Homo sapiens: one gene and its partners. The protein of the gene in region 1 interacts with the protein of each later gene in a pairwise test. Each region holds a gene or a part of one and is shown on either strand. Other genes may lie near its edges.

Evidence for each region.
Region 2: the proteins of STAT5B (region 1) and NMI interact in binary tests that used the Homo sapiens proteins (3 or more experiments, as listed by UniProt).
Region 3: the proteins of STAT5B (region 1) and CHAF1A interact in binary tests that used the Homo sapiens proteins (3 or more experiments, as listed by UniProt).
Region 4: the proteins of STAT5B (region 1) and LMO4 interact in binary tests that used the Homo sapiens proteins (3 or more experiments, as listed by UniProt).

What each region holds. Positions count from the first base shown.
Region 1 is NC_000017.11:42,217,391-42,224,427, forward strand, and holds part of STAT5B (signal transducer and activator of transcription 5B), read right to left. Parts: intron 6,167-7,037; coding exon 5,992-6,166; intron 2,453-5,991; coding exon 2,322-2,452; intron 2,074-2,321; coding exon 1,922-2,073; intron 1,489-1,921; coding exon 1,333-1,488; intron 941-1,332; coding exon 761-940; intron 75-760; coding exon 1-74. UniProt on the Homo sapiens protein: Carries out a dual function: signal transduction and activation of transcription. Mediates cellular responses to the cytokine KITLG/SCF and other growth factors. Binds to the GAS element and activates PRL-induced transcription.
Region 2 is NC_000002.12:151,279,637-151,286,673, forward strand, and holds part of NMI (N-myc-interactor), read right to left. Parts: intron 4,655-7,037; exon of another isoform or gene 3,663-4,654; coding exon of another isoform or gene 3,396-3,662; intron 3,319-3,395; coding exon of another isoform or gene 3,313-3,318; coding exon 3,232-3,312; intron 2,408-3,231; coding exon 2,312-2,407; intron 1-2,311. UniProt on the Homo sapiens protein: Acts as a signaling pathway regulator involved in innate immune system response.
Region 3 is NC_000019.10:4,440,623-4,443,917, forward strand, and holds the end of CHAF1A (chromatin assembly factor 1 subunit A), read left to right. Parts: intron 1-1,622; coding exon 1,623-1,719; intron 1,720-2,302; coding exon 2,303-2,403; 3' UTR 2,404-2,775; downstream 2,776-3,295. UniProt on the Homo sapiens protein: Acts as a component of the histone chaperone complex chromatin assembly factor 1 (CAF-1), which assembles histone octamers onto DNA during replication and repair.
Region 4 is NC_000001.11:87,331,857-87,338,893, forward strand, and holds part of LMO4 (LIM domain transcription factor LMO4), read left to right. Parts: intron 1-156; 5' UTR 157-159; coding exon 160-395; intron 396-7,037. UniProt on the Homo sapiens protein: Transcription cofactor. Plays a role in establishing motor neuron identity, in concert with MNX1, acting, at least in part, to disrupt LDB1-LHX3 complexes thereby negatively modulating interneuron genes in motor neurons.

The DNA of each region.
Region 1 (7,037 bases):
GGGCACTAAGGGTGCCTGTGGCTTGGTGGTACTCCATGACGCAGCAGTTGTTCAAGATCTCGCCACTGTAATCACTGCAAATCAGAGAGAGACCAGCTCCAAACCCATGCCAGGGTCTCAGGACATGCGGAGTAAATAATATAATTTGGGGTAGCAGGAAATAGAGAAGTTTGCTAAAAATGTACGTCATTTAGAGGAAATGTTAGCTACATAACACATACATGTAATCTTCTCGGACGTATCTCTACAAAATGAAACAAGATCAAACTATCTTCACAGAAAACAGTTCCTAAGAGAACTTTTTTTTTTTTTTTTGTGACGGAGTTTTGCTCTTGTTGCCCAGGCTGGAGTGCAGTGGCGTGATCTCAGCTCACTGCAATCTCAGCTCACTGCAATCTCTGCCTCCCAGGTTCAAGGGATTCTCCTGCCTCAGGCTCTCTAGTGGCTGGGATTACAGGTGCCTGCCACCACGCCCGGCTAATTTTTTGTATTTTTAGTAGAGACAGGGTTTCACCATGTTGGCCAGGCTGGTCTTGAACTCCTGACCTCAGGTGATCTGCCCACCTCGGCCTCTTAAAGTGCTTGGATTACAGGTGTGAGCCACCACACCAGGCCCAAGAACTTCCTTATATTCCTTTGCTGATGCCCAGAAGAGGCCAGAAGGGCAAACAGGGATCTGACACAGGAGGCAGAATTCTTTTTTTCCTGTTGCCAGGACATGAGACAAGTAGCAGGGAATGAGAGGAAGCTGCACAATTACTTGCGGGTGTTCTCGTTCTTGAGCAGAGACTTGGCCTGCTGCTCACTGATGATGGTGGCCTTCACCTGGGGGGGGTTCATGTGCACGTTCAGCTTCCCGCCCACCAGCAGGCGCACAGTGGCTGCAAACTTGGTCTGGGTCTTCAGGACCTGAGGAGGCTGCTTCTCAATGATGAACGTGCTGCAGGGGACACAGGGACAGATGCATGATGAGGGGCTGGTGCAGGGGAAAGGGCTCTCAGTCCCTCTGTGGTGGGGGTGGGGCTGCCTCCCGAGGGGCTCAGGAGGTGAAGAGCTCGGGCACAGCCTCTGTTCCTGGGGAAGCCGTGAGAGTCCAGGGAGAGGATGGAGAGGGGAGTGAGATAACACAGAAGCTGGCATGGGCTGCAGCCCAAGGGCATCTCTTGCAGTGTCCACAGGAGAAACTGGGCAAGGGCCACAGCAACTGGAGATGGAGTTGGGAGGGATGAGAGGCAGGAAGTGGATCTGCTGGTCTGGAAGGCACCTGCGGCTCCCCCCACGCAGGCAGGAGCTGCCCCAAGCTCCTGGGCATGGCAAACAGGCAGCAGTCACCTGGTCACCAGGGCTGAGATAATGTCCGTGATGGTGGCGTTGACCTCGGCCAGCATCTCCTCCACTGGGCCGGGGATGGGCAGCTGCTGGCAGAGGTGCTCAGCCCTGCGGATCTGCTGCCGGTTCTGCCAGATGATCTCGGCCAACTTCTCACACCTGCACGAGAGCCCCAAGGCCAACAGGAGGACAATGGCTCCTCCGCACAGACGCCAGGCCCCAAGACACAGCTCCCGTTCCCCCAGGAAGGCTCTGTGCTTTCGCCACACTTCCCACCCATGGGAAGAGCAGAGCTCCCTGCCTCCCAGAATTAGAGACGTACACAGGAGGGGCGACCCTGACTAGGCCCAAACAGCCCAAGCATCACCCCACACACCCGAACCCTGTCCCATCTCCAGGACAGCAGCCCCCTTCCTGGGGGAGGTGCACAGGATGGGGGCCAAAGTCTGATTGAGGAACCAGGCTCCCTGGAGAAACAAGAGCTGTCCCAGGATGGAGGGGGCCTGCTGCAGGAGCCAGCACAGGACGCAGAAGCAGCCGGGATCCCCACCAGCCCCTCCTGCCCTGCCCGCTGGCCGCCCCACACCATTACCAGGACTGTAGCACGTCCAGGCTGCCCTCGGGGGGCCCGCCGTTCCCGGCCAGCTGCTGCCGCCGCTTCCACTGGATCAGCTCGTCATCCAGGATGATGGTCTGCTGCTTCCGCAGCAGCTGCAGGGTCTTCTGGTGCTTCTCGGCCAGCTCCTGAGGGAAGGGAGGAGAGCAGCCCCTTCTGGGCTCCCAGAGAACACCGCAGGGCCTCGCTGGGAAATGGCAGGGCAGGGCCCAGGCCGTTCCCTCTCCCCAAGCTGCTCTGCCTCGCAAGGCCCCCAGGAAAAAAGGCCTCCTGCCCTCCCAGGTTCTGCTCTCATGCTGGTCCCAGCCCTCCCTCGGGTCCCCAGAGACTGACTTCATGGCACCCACGCCCAGGAGAGGCCCAGGACCCCACTCACCACGCGGTACTGCTGCAGTGTCTGTGCCTCACGCTGCAACCAGGCCTCCAGAGACACCTGCTTCTGCTGGAGGGCCGTCTCCCGGCTCAGACGCTCCTGGGGGCTCAGCTGGGCCAGCGGGCCAAACTGAGCTAGAGGAGGGGAGAGGAAACCATGACCATCACCTCCCAGTGTCCAACAGGAGGCCCAGAGAAGCCCACTCACCCGTTCTGGAGCGAGACCCTCCTGGGCTCAGATACTGCATTAAGGGCAAGTCGGGGTTCCTGACAGCCAGGGGGGCCAAGATGAATGGGTGCCCCAGGAGGCGCCTCTGGGCCCTGCTCGCCAGCCTCCTGACTCTGAGCCGTCCCCTCTGGGGGCACACGGGTGCTGGGGCAGCTGGGGAGGAGGCCTGCCTGCCTCCTGCCCGCCTGCCTCACAGGGCTGCCAGCCCTCTTCTCGCGGCCCAGCATGGGTCCAGGCTGTCTGGGGTGTAAGTGTGCCCATGCCCTTGACTGCAGGTGAACCTGGGCAAATCGCTTTCCTTTCCTGTGCCTTGGCTTCCCCACGTGTAAAACGGGAGATTCTCGGCACCTGCCTCAGTGGGGTGCATTAAGATTAAATACATGAGGACATGGAAGATGCCAGAAAGCTGCCTGACATGGGTGAGCTCTGTGTGAGGTTCGTGCTTCTTGGTTAACGGGGAACAGGACAGAGAGAAGAGGTGACAGAGACAAGCAGCTGCTCGGCCCCATCCCTCCCGCAGCAAGGCCTCTTCAGGGAAACCCAGCCCCGGCGGCTCTGTCTAGTCCCTGAGCACAGCAATCCCTCCTCAGGGGAGGATGAGATTCTTGAGAGGCTGGAAGGGGCCCAGCATGTTTGTCCAGGTGAGCTCACTGTGAACCCAGCCAACCAACCAGGGAACACGGACAGACAGACAGACCGCAGAGGGAGAGCATGTCCAGGGCCACTGGGGATGCAGAGCCACCAAGATTCTCTCAGGAAAGGGAGGCCGAAGGGAGGCGGCTTCCCTCCACACCATCTGTGAGGAGTCTCATTGATGGCGGGACAGGGAGTAAGTTAGGCCTCATTACCTTTTAAAAATTATTATGAAATAGGTAAGACACAGGGAACGTGGAACACAGGAGCACCTGTGTATCAATAACCCAGGCTAAGAAAGTAAACATGTCCACAGTTACAACCACCACCGCAGGCCCACCCCACCCTCCCAGCGACAGCCCGTCTCCACCACACTGGGACTATTAATCCCTTCCCATCACCTTCTCAACAGCCCAGAGTCCTTGCTTGAGCTGAGTCAGAAGATGCGCGCACCAGCATGTCTTGGTCGAGCTCCTGGCTGGCCCCTGAGGGCCACGTCACTCTGACCCCAGCCCTGACCCATGGGATGCACAAGCTGGGACAGACAAAAGCAACTCTATGTAGCCAGGAACAGCCCAGAGCTAGAACTCAGAAATATGGCTCCAATCTCACTGCAGGTATCGAGCAGGAAGAGGATCATCCAGGGACGGACAGATCCAAGGTATCTGCACGGCTACCTCAGGAATCCTGCCCAGCCACAGGGAGGGTGGTGGTGATCCCAACACCTGGGCCCAGCCTTCCTATGCAAGGGACCCACTTAGGGCTCTCCTGGAAATTTGCAGAAGCTTTTGGGAAGGAGGCCAGGGAGACGGGAAGCAATTTCCCTACTCCACTGGAGGCAGCTGAGCCTTCCCTGGCAAAAGCAGATCAATAGTCTGTGTTTCTGCTGAGTGAACTTGACAAATGGGACTGAGAAGACACTGCGTGATAGATCCAAACCCAACCTGAATCCAAACCTAATCCGCCACCATGCACAGGAAACAGAAAAGCCAGGCACGGGATCAGAAATACTGTTGACAGTCTAAGGACTTGGGTAGGAATAGCCATCCCAAATCTTCCGTTTCCATTCTCTGAAGGAGCTGCCCTTCTTCTAGGGCCAGTCTAGGATGGATTCAGATAAAAAAGGAAGACAGGCTAGAATCATCCTGTCAACCTTTACTCAATAACTGTTATGTTTCAGGCATTGTGCTGGCCTCAGGGTACAGAGATAAAAGATATAGTCCCTTCTCAAAGATTTATATTCCAGTGGAGAAGATAAAGAGTAAATAAGTAGTATCACTATAGACATAAAATGGAACCTACATACATGGAATTAGAGGAGCATGTGCTGTGTGTGTGTGTGTGTGCTGTGTGTCTATGTGTGTGTGGTGTGTATGTGTGGTGTGTGTGTGTGCTATGTGTGGTGTGTGTGTGCTGTGTGTGGTGTGGTGTGTGTGTGCTGTGTGTGGTGTGGTGTGTGTGGTGTGGTGTGTGTGTGCTGTGTGTCTGTGTGTGTGCTGTGTGTGGTGTGTGTGTGCTGTGTGTGTGCACTGTGTGTCTCTGTGTGCTGTGGGGGGTGTGTGTGCTGTGTGTGTGTGTGCTGTGTGTGTGATGTGTGTGGTGTGTGTGTGTGCTGTGTTGTCTGTGTGTGCTGTGTGTGTGTGTGTTTGGAGGGGCTGGGTGGTTGAGCCAAGGCTTCTCTGAGACTGAGCTGGGCATGGAAGCAGAGAGGAAACTATTAAAGCTCAAACTGCCAAACTGCTACAGGGTCAAAAGGGGGCGCTGGTGGGGCTCCACAGCCTCACCACAGACTGAAGCTCTCTGTGCCCCAACTACTAAGCAGGATTTATACCAGGCTAGGGAAGCTCTGTCCATAAGGGCTACCTAAGGGGCGTTAAGTGTACTCTGTTTCAGGAAGACCTCTGTGAATAACTGCATAGAACATTAGAAATCATATACAGGTCCTTAGTACTTACACGTACCTGCTTAGAAAGGTTTCTTTTCCCCCTTAGAGATAGGGTCTTACTATGTTGCCTAAGCTAGTCTGAAACTACTGGCCTCAAGTGATCCTCCTGCCCTGGCCTCCCAAAGCACCAGGATTACAGGTGTGCAAAACCACTCCCAGCTTAGAATTTTTTTTTTTTTTTTTTGAGACAGAATTTTGCTCTTTTTGTCCAGGCTGGAGTGCAATGGTGAGATCTCGGCTCCCTGCAACCTCCGCCTCCCGGGTTCAAGAGATTCTCTTGCCTCAGCCTCCCAAGTAGCTGGGATTACATGCATGCGCCACTGGGATGCCCAGCTAATTTTGTATTTTTAGTAGAGACGGGGTTTCACCATGTTGGCCAGGCTGGTCTCGAACTCCTGACCTCAGGTGATCCGCCTGCCTCAGCCTCCCAAAGTGCTGGGATTACAGGTGTGAGCCACCGTGCCCAGCCAGAAAAATTTTTAAACATGTAATTATATAATTTCCTATTTATCATTTCAATAAAGCTCCACTTATAATATGCCTACTATATACAAAAGTATTGTTTGCTAGTATTTATTTAGACTGTGAGCTCCTTCTCAAAAGAAGAAATGTCTTCCCTGGCAGCTCAGAAGCTCCCTGGATGTGGGGACCTGAGTGAGATATGCACTTAAGCGGGGGGTCCTGTCATCTCCCCTTCCTAAATCTCATCCTCTCAGCACTGTCTTCAATGCAAATAAGTCCCTGCTACTCAGAGAAAGGTCGCTGCCTCCGAATGGAAAGTGTGCTTTCTCCCAACCCCACCAGAGCTGCTTTCCAGTCCCCAGGCCCAATCCTCAAGTTGCACAATGTGCCTCCACCGCGCCTCACCTTGGATCCTCAGGCTCTCCTGGTACTGGATGATGAAGTACTCCTGAGTCTGCTGCAGCTTTTTTAACTCATTCTCTGTGTCCTGCGTGACCAGTCGCAGCTCCTCAAACGTCTGGTTGATCTGGAGGTGTTTCTGGGACATGGCATCAGCAAGGCTTCCAGCTGGAGAGCTACCCTGGGAACATATGGGGGGCAGTGCAAGGCAGTGCGAATGGGAGGAAGACTGAGGCCTTAATCCCCAGGAAAAGCCAGCTCCTACAACCAGGGTAAGACCCCAAAAGGTAAATTTTGAGTCGGGAGGAAAAGCAAACGTCATCATGAGACACAGGGTGGAGTGGGAAAAGTGAGAAACAGGTGAGCGGACAGATCATGGCTCAGATCACAAAGCATGGGAGAAGCTTCCATTTCAGATCTGACCTCCACCAGAGTATTCCAAACGAGGTCCATTGAATTACCTTTGGAGAAACTAGAACGTAACCTGGTCCAGTGTCACCTGGGTTTTCCTACTAATGAGGAGGTGGAGTGATTCCTCTTCCACTCACTGACCCAATGCAAGGACGGCATTAAGCATTAGGGAGGCCATGGGGAGCAGGGCCATGTGAACACACATCATCTGTGTCCTCACTCAAGATATTCTCGTGATGGAATCATTTGCTTCCACCATGGAAGAGGCCAAACCTCTTGCAGGCATCCTGGAGACCCCAGGGTGAAGTGATGGGGGAGGCATAAACAAGGTCTCTGTGGACCCAGCCCTGTAAGTGACCTGATCAGACCACTCCTTCCACACCTGATTCAGGGGCTAGGGAAAAGTCTTTCCTAAGTATTCTCACCTGAATATGAGCATGCCTTTACTAAAAAATTATTCAGCTGAGGTTGAATTACTTTGCACTTGTTCACATTGTCTTGTGGTTGCAATCTCATCAAGGTTATAAATCAGTTAAGATCAGAGACCACATCTTCTATTTCATTTTTTTTTTTTTGAGACAGGGTCTCACTCCATCACCCATGAGTGCAGGGGTGCGATCATGGCTCACTGCAGCCTCTAC
Region 2 (7,037 bases), on another chromosome or scaffold:
GAGCTAATTTCTGTATTTTGTATTTTTAGCAAAGACAGGGTTTCACCACGTTGGCCAGGATGGTCTCTTGACCTCATGATCTGCCTGCCTTGGTCTCCCAAAGCGCTGGGATTACAGGCGTGAGCCACCACACCTGGCCCAGAATTAGATGATGTTAAATTTATCAAATTTAAAAATTCCACCTTCCCCAACACCTGCCCATCAACTTTTTAACCATTACCACAACTTAGGTTTATAAAAAATGAGAAGGGACAGTATCAACAGAAATTGTAAGCTGAGGCTACACAGGTGGCTCACACTCGTAATCCCAGCACTTTGGGAGGCCAAAGCAGGCAGATCACCTGAGGTCAGGAGTTTGAGACCAGCCTGGCCAACATGGTAAAACCCATCTCTACTAAAAATACAAAAATTAGCTGGGCGTGGTGGCAAACGCCTGTAATCCTGGCTATTCAGGAGGCTGAGGCAGGAGAATCGCTTGAACCAGGGAGGCGGATGTTGTAGTGAACCGAGATCGCACCATTGCATTCCAGCCTGGGCAACAAGAACAAAACTCTGTTTCAAAAAAAAAAATTGTAACCTGAAAGATAAAGGTAGGTGGTTATACTTAGCTGCTTAGAATTATTGGGATTAACAGATTCATATAACTACACATAAATGCACAAATGAGATAGATGCTTGCATTTCTATTGCCCATGGTTATTTTACATGCTGAAAATAACACAGAGATTAGAAATATTCAGTGAGTCATTCAATTTAATCTTACATTTATTCTTTGCCTTTATGCATAACTCCAGTGGAACTTCTGATTACGGTAAGGCTGACATCAAAACAGTCTACAATGTCTGAGTAAAGGCAGAGTGTTACCCAATAATGCAGAAATACCCAGTATATGCTGAGGAGCAAGGGCTTTCTGAAATTAGAGTGAGAAAGCTTGATTCTATTTCTGACCACACTGCGACAGACAGCAAATTTACTTAAGCTCTCTGATCACAGGTTTGGTCCTCTGCAAAGTGGGTCGACTAGGGCTGGCCGGTTTCTAAAGGCTCTTTGAGTTATAAGACTGCATGATTCTAGCTCCAGTCTGAGAAGTAACCAGAATCTTAACAGAGTCTTCTGCACAAAGTCACCCATCTCATAAACACAGAAAACCTCACTTCCTGATATTCAATATCCTATCTCCCACTTCAGAAACAAGAAGTGTCAATGCTTTAATTTTTTTTTTTTTAGGCGGCGCCTCGCTCTGTCGCCCAGGCTGGAGCACAGTGGTGTGATCTCAGCTCATCGCGACCTCCGCCTCCCAGGTTCAAGCAATTCTCTGCCTCAGCCTCCCAAGTAGCTGGGATACAGGCACCCGCCACCATGCCTGGCTAATTTTTCTTTTTTAGTAGAGACAGGGTTTCACCATCTTAGCCAGGCTGGTCGTGAATTCCTGACCCCATGATCCACCCGCCTCAGCCTCCCAAAGTGCTGGGATTACAGGCATGAGCCACCGCGCCCAGCCTCAATGCTTTAATTTTTTAACATCTGAGTTGTTAAGAAAAAAAATGGGTGAAAATTATGTACAATTAAAATACAGGAAAATTTAGGAGAGAATTTAAATGGTGAGGATTAATATATGTCCAATTTTTTGAACCGTGAAACTCATCTAAATTACCAAAGCACCTTGGATGAGAAGAATTATAAAAGAACTCAGTGAGAAAAGCCAGAATTTGATCCAACAGTAATTTGCTAATGACCATCTTTTTTTGGTAAATTTTATTAATTTTTTGTTTTTGTAAATTTATTAAAGTGTACGTAAATAATAGAAAAATGCATGTATCATTAAGTACAGCAAGATGAAATTTTACAAAGCTAACACACGTGATTGGCACGCAGATGATAGGCAGGACATGACAACACCCCAGAAACCCCCTTGGGTTCCCTTCTGGGTCTTACCTGCTTCCAAAATAACCACTGTTTTAACTTCAAACATCCTGCTTTTGCTTAATTTAAAGGGAAGCATATGGTATGCCCTCTTCTGTCTTTTTTGTGTTAACATTGTGTTTATGAAACTCATTTGTGTTGCTGCATGTCATTATGATCTGTTCATTCTCATTGCTGTGTAGTTTTCTATCATATGACTATACCCCAATTCACTAATTCGTTCTACTATGAAGGAATCATTGGGTTGTTTTCCATTTTGAACTATTACAAATGGTGGTGCCATGGATGATGATAAGGTTTTAAAAATGAATTTTGTGTAATTAAAATGCTTTTTCCAAAAACCATGCATCCATCAAAAATGTAGTATATAAAATAATTAAGAGAGTACCTGGAATTCTTTGGTAGCCTCTTGTAACTCCGTTTCAAGCTTTTGGATCTCCTTCTTTAGTTGAATATTTTTCTTTGTAATTTCATCAATTAGTCCCTTAAAAATATCAAATGGTACCAAAGAAAGTAAATAGCCCCTGAACTCATTTTTCCGAATGAACTAAAGACTATAAATTTCTCTCATCCTGACCAAAGAAAGACATTAGACAGTCTCAGAATAAATATGACTATGTGAATAATGCATTTGTTGAATATTTTACATCATCACCTGTCTATTCTAACATTGCCAAGTAGTACTATCTCCATTATATAAATCAGGAAACCACCTTTTACACTAGACCGAAGTCACAGAAAGTTGTATAGTAAGGCAAAGATTGAGATCAGATCTTCTGAATATTACTTCAGTGCTGCATCAACTCCTTTCCTAGCTATTTGTGAGCATGATAAGACTTTTAAATTGCACTGTAATAGCGGACATATTCTGGGGCAGTTTGTTGTTGGTGTTGTTGTTGTTTTTGTTCTTAATTATCTGTGATTCCCATAGTATCGCATAGTACACAGTTACCTTAATGAGCCAGACATATGACCTTGGGGAAGTGGTTTAAGCTACCTGGGCCTCCGTTCCCTCTTGGGGTCTAATGAGATAATTGCTGACTATGCTCTTAACTTGTTGATGCAAATCCAAGAAATGAGGGTGTGAGTGAGAAAGCAGCTAGTGTTGTAAGCCTTATAAGAGAAAGAATAAAAATATGACACTTCTTGTAAGGCTTAAATAACATAATGGAAGTTAAAAATTTTTTTAAAGCCTAACGGCCTCCCAAATTCAAGGTAATGTTGGACAAAGACATACAAAACATGCCTTACTGCAAAACTAATAGATATAAAATAATTTTTAATAATACCCAGTAATTTCCTTTTTACCTTATTTTGTTCATCTTTTATAAATTCATCTGGCGAATGCTCCTTAAGAATTTGTTGTGTGTCATCTTTATCAGCTTCCATGATCCCCTAATATTATAAAAAATAAATATTATAAGCATAGCATATATACACAAATTTAAGAACAAAGAAATAAGAACTTTTACCCTTTTATGGAAGAAACATCTCTTCTTTGCTATATCTTTTTTTCCCATCATCAAAGGCTTTATTATCATATGGCTTATATCCAAACAAAGTCTGTATTTTAATAACTCCTTTTTTTTTTCTTTTTTTGAGACAGAGTCTCTCTCTGTCGCCCAGGCTGGAGGGCAATGGTGCGATCTTGGCTCACTGCAACCTCTGCCTCCCAGGTTCAAGTGATTCCCCTGTCTCAAGCCTCCCAAGTAGTTGGGATTACAGGTACCTGCCACCATGCCCGGCTAATTTTTGTATTTTTAGTAGAGATGGGGTTTCACCATGTCGGTCAGGCTGGTCTTGAACTCTTGTCAAGTGATGCACCCCCCTCGGCCTCCCAAAGTGCTGGGATTACAGGCGTGAGCCACAGCACCTGGCCAATATTTCAAATAACTTTCACACCTATAATATATAAAAAGATTCTAAAAATCCTTTGCTTTTCAACAAAATAATATATAGAAAGTAATGAACATTAATGTTCCTTTGTAGTTCACATTCCAACCATAATATCATGCTCCATTTTAAATGAATACTATTTTGGTTTTCCAACGTTTTTCAAAGTTTTTGATTAAAATATTTAATTCTCCCTATTGTTCTCCCCAAATGTAAACAAAGTCAAGAGGCCTCCAACATATGCTTTCTCTACGCAGGTGTTCTTACCTGAAGCTTTCACTAACTCTCCTGCTGGGTCCATAAACATGGATTGGGAAGAAATTATATGTTTATTTCTAATAACCTCTAATTGAAGCTTAGCATTCTCTTCAATTATGAATATGGTAACAAACTACAGTAGTATTCACAGCACCTGTGATAGTCACCAATAGAAAGCACAGATAGTTTCATAGAATATTGTTGCAGATATGCTAAAATAGTTTGTGTTTAACATTGCTTCTACATTAGTTACTAACCTCACCACTAGGTCTTGTAATATATTGTAATACATTGATATATATCACTATATCAAACATTTGCTTTTTAAATATTCTGATAACCATATTTCAATACAATTGATTTCTGGCCGGGCGCGGTGGCTCATGTCTGTAATCCCAGCACTTTGGGAGGCCAAGGCGGGTGGATCACAAGGTTAAGAGTTTGAGACCAGCCTGGCCAACATGGTGAAACCCCGTCTCTACTAAAAATACAAAAAAAATTAGCTGGGCGTGGTGCCAGGTGCCTATAATCCCAGTCATATTTCAATACAATTGATTTACTTTGTAATTCTATGTATTTTATTTTATGCATTTAATTTTTTTTTTAGATAGGGTCTCACTTTGTTGCCCAGGCTGGAGTGCAGTGGGGCATGAACACGGCTCACTGCAGCCTCAACATCCCTGACTCAAGTGATCCTCCCACCTCAGCCCCCCAAGTAGTTGGGACTACAGGTATGTGCCACCATGCCCAGCTAATTTTTGTATTTTTTGTAGAGATGTGTTTTCGCCAAGTTGCCTAGACTGTCTCGAACTCCTGGGCTCAAACAATCCGCCCCCCTTGGACTCCCAAAGTGCTGGGATAAGCCACCATGCCTGTCCCCACAGGCATTGACTAAATGTTTTTTTTTTGGAGAAAGGCCCATAGGATTTGCCAAGCTGGCAAAGGAATCCATGGTACACAAAATTTAAGAACTCTTGCCTACATATGAATTTACTGAGATGAAAAACTCTCAGATCAAAAATGGGACAAAGGATATCATGATTCTATGTTTTTAGATACACATTAATAAACAGTCTGCCATATAATTTTCCAAGATTTCAAGTGGCTAAATTCTCAATATTCTTGAAAAAGAAATAAAAGACATCTATTCCTCCTTAAAAATAAAATAGAAGACTAGCAAAAACTTAGCTATGTCTTAGTTTAATGAACACAGGAGTGTCAAAAAAAGAGGAGAGTCGCATAACACCCAGATCTTGGTTTCTAATAATATTCTTCAATAAAAGAAACCAGGGCTCATTGGAGCAATGGCTGATTCTAGGTCTGGGGTATAAAATATACAAAATAAGCCTGGAATATCTTGTAGTGCCAGAAAAGTAAAAAGCACTAAAACACATGCACAAACACATACAATATGATGGGAGTATGTGAAAGGGACATGGGGACCCAACTGAAAGGGCTCCAGTGGCCAAAAGTACATACACAGAATTGATCAAGTAAGTAAATATATGGAGGATAATAGGAGCCAAGTTTTTCACCGTCAGAGAAGATAATTATAAATATGGAAATGGAGAAAACAAGAATAAATACTGTTGATTGGAACTAGATTTCAATGTAATCCTGCAGCTGTGGTTTCTGATTGATGATTGAGATAGATAGATAGATAGATAGATAGATAGATAGATAGATAGATAGATAAATAGACAGACAGATAGAAATACCTATGTGTGATTACCCAGGCATGGTGGCATGCACCTGTAATCCTAGCTACTCGGGAGGCTGAGGCAGGAGAATCGCTTGAAGCCGGGAGGCAGAGGTTGCAGTGAGTCAAGACTGCGTCACAGCACTCCAGCCTGAGCGACAGAGTGAGACTCCATCTCAGAAAAAAAAAAAAAAAAAGCAATGCCTATGTGTGTATCTTGTGTATATACAAATACATATATACCCTAGCTCTGTCTGCTGAGAAGGCCTGGGAGAGCAGATACAACCACAATGAGCAATGAGCACACTCAGCACCCAGACTTTGGTTTCTAATACTATTCTCCACCAAAAGGAACCAGGACTCTTTAGAGAAATGGTTGATCCCAAAACCAGGATAGAAAAACTGCAAGATGAGCCTGGGACATCTTATGATGCCAAAAAGCAAGGAAATGCTTAAAGAATGATGATGACATGTTGAAACGACACAGAATCCACCTTGAGATGGTTTTCGGTGGCCAAATCTGGGGATAAATTAAAGATTAAAATACATAATGGTAGTAATGATTAAATCTGTTGATTAAAGTAAAAAACTGAGTCCAGATAAATTAGAAATTTTGATGAAGAAAGGAATTTTTAGTTAGCTTCAAAATAGTTCCCCACAAAATGTTTATTAATTTCAAAGAAGAAAAGAGTAACTTTATACTGGAGAAGTCTGGCAGACATCAACATAATGAGATAATCAAAGTAAATAATGGAATAAATCAAAATAATGTAACATATTACAAGGTGCACTGAGAACACAATGTAACTTCGACGACAGTCCTGCCAAAGATGCATAATCTGAATCTAAGCATGAGGAAACATCAGACAAACTCAAATTGAGGGGTTCTACAATACAACTGCCCTGTTCTCTTCAAAAGTTTCAAGTTCAGAAGGCCAAGGAAAGACTAAGAAATGTCCATACTGAAGGAGACTAAAGAGACCTCACAACTAAGTAGAAAGCATGATCCTCAACTGGATCCTTTTGCTATCACTGGGGCTCAGAAACTGATACCCGGAAGTATGGCATTTTGACATGGTGAACTGAAGATGGCTCAAGGTCTCTCTGACCTCCCCCTCCTCCTCCTCTGTCTCTCCCAAAGCACAGGATGAAGGTGCACTGATGTTCTCCTATCTGCCTAAATGTGGGACCTGCCAGAAAACAGAACAATTACCTCTAGTCCCTTCCCTGAGTTTTTAATTCTGAATTCATATCACAGAAAGAA
Region 3 (3,295 bases), on another chromosome or scaffold:
TCTGAGAGGTGTCCTCAGGCAATTTCATGGTTGGGTGGGGCTAGGTTGCTCTTACACATCCTAGATGGACAGCCTGCCACACGCCTGGGCCGTGTGGTACATAGCCCAGGGCTCCTGAGCTGTGGACCTGTGCAGCAGGTGACTGACTGCTCCATCCTGCAGGCACTTGTAACCCAGTGGTATATGTGTCTTTAACATAGAAAAGGCACAGCAGAGGCCAGGTGCGGTGGCTCATGCCTGTAATCCCAGCACTTTGGGAGGCTGACGTGGGCGAATCCTGAGGTCAGGAGTTCGAGACCAGCCTGGCCAACATGGCGAAACCCCCGTCTGTACTAAAAATACAAAAGATTAGCTGGGCGTAGTGGCGGGCACCTGTTAAAAAAAAAAAAAAAGGCACAGCAAAAATATCGTTGCGGCTGGGGCAGTGGCTCACGCCTGTAATCCCAGCACTTTGGGAGGCCAAGGCAGGCGGATCACTTCAGGTCAAGAGTTCGAGACCAGCCTGGCAACATGGTGAAACCCCATCTCTACTAAAAATACAAAAATTAGCCGGGTGTGGTGGCAGGTGGCTGTAATCCCAGCTACTCAGGAGGCCGAGGCAGGAGAATCACTTGAACCTGGGAGTCAGAAGTTGCAGTGAGCCAAGATCGCACCACTGCACTCCAGCCTGGATATATGGCAAGACTCTGTCTCAAGATTTATATATATTAAATAAAAATACAGTTGTCTGTAATCCCAGGACTTTGGGAGGCTGAGGTGGGTAGATCATAAGGTCAGGAGTTTGAGACCAGCTTGACCAACATGGTGAAACCCCGTCTCTACTAAAAATACAAAAATTAGCTGGGCGTGATGGCATACACCTGTAATCCCAGCTACTCAGGAGGCTGAAGAACGAGAATCGCTTGAACCCGGGTGGCGGAGGTTGCAGTGAGCTGAGATTGTGCCACTGCACTCCAGCCTCAGTGACAGAGTGAAACTCCCGTCTCAAAAATAAAAAATAAAGGCCAGGCATGGTGGCTCACACCTGTAATCCCAGCACTTTGGGAGGCTGAGGCGGGCGGATCACGAGGTCAGGAGATCAAGACCATCCGGATAACACGATGAAACCCCGTCTCTACTAAAAATACAAACTGGGCGTGGTGTCAGGCGCCTGTAGTCCCAGCTACTCAGGAGGCTGAGGCAGGAGAATGGCGTGAATCCGGGAGGCGGAGCTTGCAGTGAGTCGAGATCGCGCCACTGCACTCCAGCCTGGGCAACAGAGCGAGACTCCGTCTCAAAAAAAAATAAAAATAAATAAATACAGTTGTAATCTGATGGGGCCACTATCAGGTATGCGGCCTGTCACTGACTGGAAATTATTCTGCAGTTGGCAATGATGGCTGTTTTTGGAGATCTGAATCCAGTTCATTTGAGGGAACCCCCAAGGTTCTCTGGTTGTGGCCTCTTGAATAAACCTCTCACATTTGGACAGTTTGTTACCAAATTGGGTTCTGGATGTTGGTTTCCTTCCGTGTTGGGGGTGGGAGGAAGGTGTCACACCTGTGGAGTTCCCCCCGCTACCGCACTGGCACCAGGGTGGCTGCTGCCTGCAGTGCTGATGGCCGTGTACCCTGTCTGTCCAGATTGGTGCTGAAGACATGGACGGCTTCCAGGCAGACACGGAGGAGGAGGAAGAGGAGGAGGGCGACTGTATGATCGTGGATGTCCCGGATGCTGCGGGTGAGAAGGGCTGTAGATAGCAGAACGCACTGGTGAGGTGGGCGCTGGAGGTAAACCTCAACAGAGAAGGGATGGGGCTGCCTAAGACTAGCTCCACTGTGAGCAGCCAGGAGGGCTTGCAGCTGGAAGTGGCTCCTGCCCTGCCACATCCTCGGGCGGGCTGGGCCGTGGGTGCTGACCATGCCAGGCATCGTTCTGGCCGCAGAGCCACAAGGGCCTATGCTGGGAGTCTCAGGTGGTTGTGACGTTAGATGGGGGTCAGGGAAGGCTGCACTGAGGCAGCAAGGGAGGGCCAGGTGGATTTCTGGAGCACTCGCCAAAGAGGAAGTACAGAGGCCCTGCAGCAGGCTGCGTGGGAGGAGTGTGCCCGGGTGGTGGGGGGCAGGCAGGGTCAACCTGAGAGCAGGTGAGCAGGTCACCTCTAGAAGAGGCACAACGCCCCAGCCTCTGCCTGTCCCCACTGTCAGGTGGAGGGTCCCGCCCTGGGGTTGTTGCAGGCCCCATGAGGCAGCAGGGTGGGGTCTTCCCCCAGGGAGCCCAGAGGGCCCAGCCAGCTCAAGACCCTCCCTCTCTTGCCCTGCAGAGGTCCAAGCCCCGTGTGGAGCCGCTTCCGGAGCTGGGGGTGGTGTGGGGGTGGACACCGGCAAGGCCACCCTGACCGCGAGCCCACTGGGTGCATCCTGAGAGCAGGGGTGACGTATGTAGAATGCTTAGGGTGTCCTCCCCACAGAGCAGATACTTGAACCGACTCAATTCCTGTGTAAAGAGCACTTTGTCCTGCTTCACGGACCTCCCCAAAGTGTGCAGAGTTCTATATAGGATGCTGGATTAGTTCCTTTGATATTTGTAAAAATTCCCCCAAGAGCCGCATATGAATCTGCCCTTTAATAAAGCATTATTGAGATTGCTGGCCTATTGGGGAAGCCTGCGGGCACAGGAGCAGGCGTGGAATCCAATACTTGTAAATGAATTGAAGCGTCAGGACCACCCGCCTGGCCACGTGCGCGGGCCCCTGGACCTAACGAGGCAGTGTATAAACTTATTCTCTAGCCCTGAGCTGCTCTGTCTGTCTTTTCCGAAAACATTGTGTTTCTCTGAGAGTGCACCTTGCCCATGGCCCGGCCCCATGTGGTGCCTGGTGTCTGGGGCCAGCCTTGTGCCCTGCAACAGCACCGTCCCATCTGTTTGTCACTAAGTCACCCTCATACCAGGCTGACCTGGGTCAAGGTGCGGGTTTTTCCGCACGTGCTTCTGTCCGGCGATCCCTCCTGCCCTGGGTTGGGGGGTTAGGAGAGGGTGTTCCCAGAGACCTGCTAGGGTCACCTCCCTGAACCCGGAGCTGCTGGGAGCCGAGTTTGGCTTCGAGTCTGAGGCTTTGTGAGAGCCCACCCCAGGTCAGGTGCATCTTTTGCGAGTGCTGGAGCTAGAAGGTGACCTCCTCCCCGCCCCAGGTTGAGTGGGCTTTATCCACACTGTCCGAGGGAGGACAGGCGACAGCCGCTGTGGTACTGAGCAGCTCAGAGCACACGCAGCCACGGGGAGGGTCACGCTCGCCAGTCCTGCTCTTCCCAGCCAC
Region 4 (7,037 bases), on another chromosome or scaffold:
TCCCCCTCAGCCTCCTTCCCGCCCTTGCCCTGCTGTTTCCTTCCAGCAGCTCCGCGGGGAGGAGGGGAATGGGCTTGCTCTCTCTCCGGCGATTACTAACTTTTGCATCGCCCCTGTTTTGTCTTTCTCTCCCTGTCCCCTTCCCGCCCTCTGCAGACCATGGTGAATCCGGGCAGCAGCTCGCAGCCGCCCCCGGTGACGGCCGGCTCCCTCTCCTGGAAGCGGTGCGCAGGCTGCGGGGGCAAGATTGCGGACCGCTTTCTGCTCTATGCCATGGACAGCTATTGGCACAGCCGGTGCCTCAAGTGCTCCTGCTGCCAGGCGCAGCTGGGCGACATCGGCACGTCCTGTTACACCAAAAGTGGCATGATCCTTTGCAGAAATGACTACATTAGGTAAGACTTTGCTGTCTTTCCTGGAGATGGGGGGAAGAGCAATGGCAAGGCCAAAGGTTAACAGGGTTGTGAGGAAAGGAGTAGGCGTCTACGGGGAGTATGCAGCCTTCACCTCAAAAATCTTCTAGTTGGCGGAATTTAAGGGGTTCAGGAAGCATGTGTTAGTCTTCCAATATCTGATGGCAAATTCATGGCAAATGCCATACTAAGTAAAGACCATCTGGTGGGACTGGGTCATTAGATGTGCAAAGGTTGAGCACCCTCTGGTCCTAGAGTTTAAGTAAGTGGTCAGCCTCTACTGGACTTCAGGCTAAAAGCAAACATCCCAAGCGGGAGTTAAGCTGCGTTCTTAAAACAAGGTAGGAACTCACAGAGGAACCCAGAAACAAAGGTTGACTTAAAAATACAAGTGTAGTTAGTGAGAAATGATTTGTCTATGGCGATGGCTTATTAACGATATTTACATAAGCATCTTGAAACTTTTTTGAGCGGAAGGCTGTGATTCGTTCTTTGTGCTCCTTGAGAAAAATGCTAATTATCCATCAGTTTAAAGACTTGTAATTCTTCTTATAGAGAAAAAAAAAGTCCCAAGAAATAAAACCTGGTGGTAATGTTTCTCTTCATACTGTTACTCGGAGGCTTGCAATAATTCAGTTAGTGTGTGGTTTGCGATGTAGAATTTGCAGTTTTTTTCAATTGAAGCATGTTCAGGTTTTGGGTTTTTTGTTGTCGTTTGTATCACTGCCCTTGATCCCCAAAAGAGATTTAGAAAAAGGCTATAGAATTATACTAATCTTGCATTTTAAAGCAATGTATAGGAACATTCATATGTCCATGTAAGCAGTCTTTTCCAACAAGTTGCAGTGCAATTAATGGAAAGAATTCAGGAGGTCAGGTGCCTATAGGATCTTTTCAGGTGAACTCAAGCTACTTAAACTCATTAATTTGAAAGGAGGCATTTGAAGGATTACACATTTAATTTGAGTAAATGGTTTGATAGACTGATGCACATGAATGCTTCTAGGAGGTGTTCTGTTTCAACATCCAGTAATTAAAAAAAAAACCCACACGCACACAGTTGATACTAGAAAACCGCACACTTTTAAGAATTTCATCCTATGTAAATTTGTCCTAAACCTTTTTCTTTAAAGTGATTAGTAGAAAATTTTTTTCTTTCTTCAGTGTGGGTAAATCAGTGGATGAACTATTTTGTTCAAAGTTTAGCTCCATTGTGATTCGCCTTATCCTGCGACTAACATTGTAAAAGATCCCAGTGCAGTTCCGAGCTGAGTGTGGATATGTTTACCCCAGTGATATCATTAGTGTAAGATGATGGAGTAAAATGACATTTAGTTATTTTGATAATGCAACCTGTGTCGATTCTGCTGGCATCCTCAATCAGTCCAAGTAAAAGAAATACAGGAAGGGAGAGGGCTTTTATTTTTAAATTAAGATGGCAGCATTAATTTCACTAAGTGTTCTTTTAGAAGTAAATGTTGGAAAATCAGCAGGAACATGGGTGTAATGCTTTCTGGTCCTCCTTCCAAGTAATGCCATGAGCTTTGACGGTGCTGTAATTAAATAGAAAGCAAAACTGTGGTAAGAAAGGAGTGTGGTTTGAAGTGGAAAAATTGACAGTGCTGTTAAGATTCCGTGAATGGTACAGATTCATCTCTTCTCCGAGTGCCTTCAAAAAAAAAAAAACAAAAAACAAAAAAAACCCTCGCTTCTGATTACAACTAATTAAAAAGAAGATGGGTCCGCTTGTATTCCCCCAGGACAAGTTTAGGCAAGTGGCTTCCTGGGAATTGTGTCCATTCTTTTCTCTATTCTTGGGGCCAAATGTAAATGGCCTTTTGGTGTTTTCCTGTGCCCTAATGGAGCAATGGAGGATGTGTGCCCAGCCCTGAGCCTTAATTAATGGCATCTACGTTCTTACTTCCTTTTTTCCCTCTGAATCTGGAAACTGGAGCCAGGCTCGCTCTTGAACTACATGCTACCCCGAGGACCTTAGATCTTTCTAGGAGAGATGAGTTCTAGCTCAGTACGAAATTGATGGCCTCACACTTAGCTCAGGGCTCACCAGCAGCTGAGCGCCCCTTCCCCTCCAATTTAAGAGATTACTGAAGTCTTCCTTCAGTGTTCCTCTCTCAGCCCATCAGGATGTCCAAAGGGTGGGAAGGTGCAGACGTTGCTGTTCCTCTCAGCTACCCCCTCTCCAATGTCCCTCAAGTCCACTTGTTGGAGGAGCTTTCAATGCCGCAGGGACCGCTGCAGAAGAGTGGAGTAATCTGCTCGCCCGCCGCCAGGTGAAGGGGACCCCTTGGTCCGACTGAGACCACATAGCGATTTACTGAGGGGCTTTTAAACTGTCTTGACTTTGAGTTGTGGTTTTTTGAAAACAACCAAGGTCTTGCTAAAAAGCTGCGGGAGAGCTGGGAAAGGCCGGCCTGAGCGCGGGGGAGGGGGCTGCAAGATGAGGGGGCGCTTTCACCAGTCCCCTCCCCCTCCGCGGCCAAGTGTCGATGGGCAGAGCTGGGCTTCTGCCTCCTCTCCCTCCAAGATTTCAGATAAAGCGGCTGCCTTGCTGCAGCGAATCCGCACAATTAAAAGCTTTAATTAGTGGCTCCTCCATTTTCTTAGTTCTGATGGGCTTTATCTAATGAGATCTGGTCTCTGGCTTAGATCTGCTCCGAATGACGTGTCCGCAATGAATGAGAGCTGCGTCGCAAACAAAACATTTAATTAACAAAATTGGCCTCTAAGAGAGGGAGGGAAAGAATGAAGGGGGGGGGGTTGTAGAGCGGAGGGGGAGGGTGGATCTTAAAGGGACCAACGCCTGCCTGGCCCCCCCATCTTACAAAAATAGGGGAACCTTGGGACTGCCCCTTCCCCCACCCCCGGCTCCCGACCCCTCAGCTCCACCCAAGCGCCCCAAGTAGCTTCGGAAACTCCGTTTCTCTTCCTCGAACCGTCTTTCCTCCACCCCCACCTCGGGCCCGAAGACTGGCGCGGAAAGTGCAGCGAGAGGAGGAAGTTCGGAGACCGGCGGGTGGGGCTCCAGGTCCGGGGAGGGCGAGGAAACGCGCCGGAAGCCAGGGTGGCGGTCGTCGGCTGGCCCTCGCTCCCTAGGCGGCCAGCACCCGGGCCGGCGCCGCCCGAGGCCGCAGCCAGAGCGCCCAGCCGGCGGGCGGTCTCGGGCCCACGAGGGGGCGAGCGCAGGGCGGGAGCCGGGCGAGCGGGTCGCGCTTTCTTTCCCCGGGCTCCACTCGGGCGGTTCACGTGGCGCCCGCAGCCGCAGTGAGCCCGGCGCGGCCGGGGGTGGGGGCCTGGGGCGAGGGTGGGGAGAATTGGTAGTTGGTGGTGGAGGGTGTGTTTGGGTAGGGGGTGGCGTTAGGAATGGAGGCGCCGCCAGACAGCGAGTTCATTTCCCTGGTAATCAACAGCAAGCTGCTATATTCAGAGAATGCTGTCCCTTTAATTGAACAGGCTAGGTAATTAAATGGCACTTTTCCAATAGGACGTGCTAGGTAAATCTAATAGTTGGTTATTTAATATCACTTTGAAGTCTGCCCACTCAAGCACAATGACAGCACAGGAGCATGTGAACTATTAGCTAGAAAAAAAAAAAAAACAGGATCTCAAAAATTAATTAAATCGCATGCAATTTAGGGGGAACGTTTATCTTGATTTGTCATAACAGAATTAATTCAAGGCCTCCAATTCACTTGGGGGCAGATCTGTTACTCTGAATTAACCAAGCGTAATTTGGCTGATTTTTTTTTTCCTATTATGCACAGCCCCCCTCTTAAGTATCAATAGCTTCTGGTGCTTTTAAGGTGCCTGGTCTCTAGTTTTTCCGAAGTACCTTTAATGGACTTGGCTCCAGGCATAATTTCTGGGTTGCATTTCTTTGTTACATTTAATATAGCTGGTGCAGAATTTAGATTAAATATAGGAACCTGCTGGAAAACCAATTGCTTCTGGATCAGTAGCTGTGGATGTGCTTTTTTCTCCTCAGATAGGTTGCTGATATTTACTTGCAGGTACAAATGTATATACCTTTCAGCCACACTCTCAGAAACGTACCTCTCCTTGCCCAAAAGCAGTTTAGAAAACACAGCCAGGTAGCGTTTCATATTGCATGTATTTTGCTTGAAGTAATAATGCAGTTGAAAATAAGCCCACCTATTGGTCATTGAAGTTACTGAAAGATGCTAAGCATTGATAGTAAACTAAAAATACGATTTGCCCTCCATCTCTTAATGCCAGCAAGGAGAGCTGGAGCTCAGCGGGCAAACAGGAATAAAACTACATGGTGTTGTTCAAACAGGAGCAAAGCACCTTTAAAGTGCAGTGGTTTGGTGGGATTTCTTCCCATCTTTTCCGTTTTCCCTGTATAAGGAACCTCTTGATGTTTGTGATTGATTGCATTGCCCAAATGCTGAAATATTAACGACCTTCTTGGACTGAGGACCCAAAGAAAGGAAACTGAAACCGATTCTGTCATCACAATTAAAGACTCCCCTGGCTTTAATTAGCCTGACCTGGGGTATATCTCCCCGTTGCTTGAGTTAAAGAGAAAAGAGCCCATTATAGTCCAGTCTGAGACCGATAGCTACTTAATTGAGCACCTAAAGCCTCGAGCCTTTTAAATCAAACACTGTCCGGACAGTCCCCCTGGTTAGATAATTAACTCTCCAGCGCACAGAAACGTTGTGAAAAAACACACACACACACGCACACACAACTTTTCAGAAAAAGGGTGGAATTCTAATGGTAGCCTTCCTCTCTGGTAAAAGGGGATTAGAATGTGTATAGACACGTAAGTTATTCTGCTCTGAGGCAGCCTTAAAGCTGTAGGCATGGAAAGATCTTAAACTCCATTGATACGTTGTTCAATAGCACATCAGTCCTGGGTAGATCTTGGTCATTTCAAACTTTGTAACTGTAATTTTTGGCACTTCAGGAATCCCACCATTTTGTGGCTGATTGTTCTCTGAAAGGTTATGATAGCAGCCCTGGAAAAAAATAAGATCTATGAAAGGCTTTTGGATTACATATGAACTGCCCTGATTATTAAAATACACTTCGATGTTGAAGACTTACAACTGACTTTACTCAGGGTGAATTGTTAAATAAATGAACACTTAGGCTGAGTAATCAGATGGGTACTGTGAAAAGGGTATTTTTGAGATGGAGTGTCACTGTGTACCTGTTGGTAGTGGCAACCATAATTATAGATTCTTATCCATTAAAATACTTCAGGGTTGCTGTAAGAGGATATTTGTTCTTTAGCCTTGTTAGGATTCTGTCACCCCCTTCTACCCCCATTACCTGTCTTCTCTTATCCTCAGCATGTATTTGGCCACATGGACTGGTTTTTAACTTTATTTTTACCCAAATTGTTTGAATTTGGTATCCCTTTTGGGGGTTGGAATAGCACTACTGCCGTCCATAAATGCTTTCCTCAGGGCCATGCCCATTCTCTGGCTACCTTCCCCTTCTGAGAACTCCCCTGCGGCAGTGGTACTGCAGGTGAGACACCGGGAGGTCCTCATCAGTGTTCCTGAAGTGTCCAGCATTAGGAGACAGCAGCCCAGAGGCCCCCCAAGCTCCCACATGGTGTGGTCCTGCAGCTAGAGGTCCTGACAGTGTATTATTTCAGCTTTCTTTCTGTAACTGTTCTGATTCTGCAAGAACGTGTCAATGTGTCGTGGATCTCAGACTAATTAGTTTTGAAATGGAGTTTTGATTGAACTCTTCAAATCGATGCTGCTGCAAAATTTGTTTCTCGGGCTTCCTATTAAAAGCCATCTTAAGGGGCAGTTTTACTACTCTCCCTGTCGTTCAGTCAATACATTTAATAACAACTTACAGGCTATTTTCAATAAAGTGGCGACAGCAAATTAGTAGTTTGAACATGACAAGCCTCTTCTGCAAGACCAGATTCTGAAAACTCAAAGCAATTATTTTTATATAGAGGCATGCTGCAATCATTCAGATTATGGGGTGTTCTATAGGAATATGTCTCCTGGTTTGACACAGACTGCATTTTATGACTTTATTTGGACAAGGAGGAAATGCAAATGTTAATATTTATTATGACACCAATATGTTAATTTGTAAGTCCTCTTACTTTGTTTTTCGTTTTTGAAAACTACCTCTCTGATTCTGCTTACTTGTTCCGACACCACCTTTCAATGTGAAATCATTTTGGTCTGTTTAATAAATATTTGTGGATATTAAAGAGGGAAGCCCAAAAGCAAATAAAGCTTCCCAGGTTGAGTCTACAGATTGCATAAAAGCCCAAGTTCGGTGGTTATTAAAATATTTTGTTGTGCTTGCAGAAGGATGTAAGGAATTATGTATATGTTTTTCTTCAGTACACCACAATTCCTTGAGCTTTCCCCTCCTCTGCAGCCTTTTCCTTCTCCCCCTCCTCCCCCCATGGCAGATGTTGTGGTCTCATTTGATTGCATAGGAAAACTGCAGTGATACAGCAAACACCCAGAGAGATATGATGACAAATGGGTCCAGATCCCGGTAAATTACTTTCTGCTCAAATCGAAATTTCATTCAGTTTGTTGCTAGCAGAGATGAAGTAATCTAAATTGTGGACTCAGGAGCAGATAGAGGGAA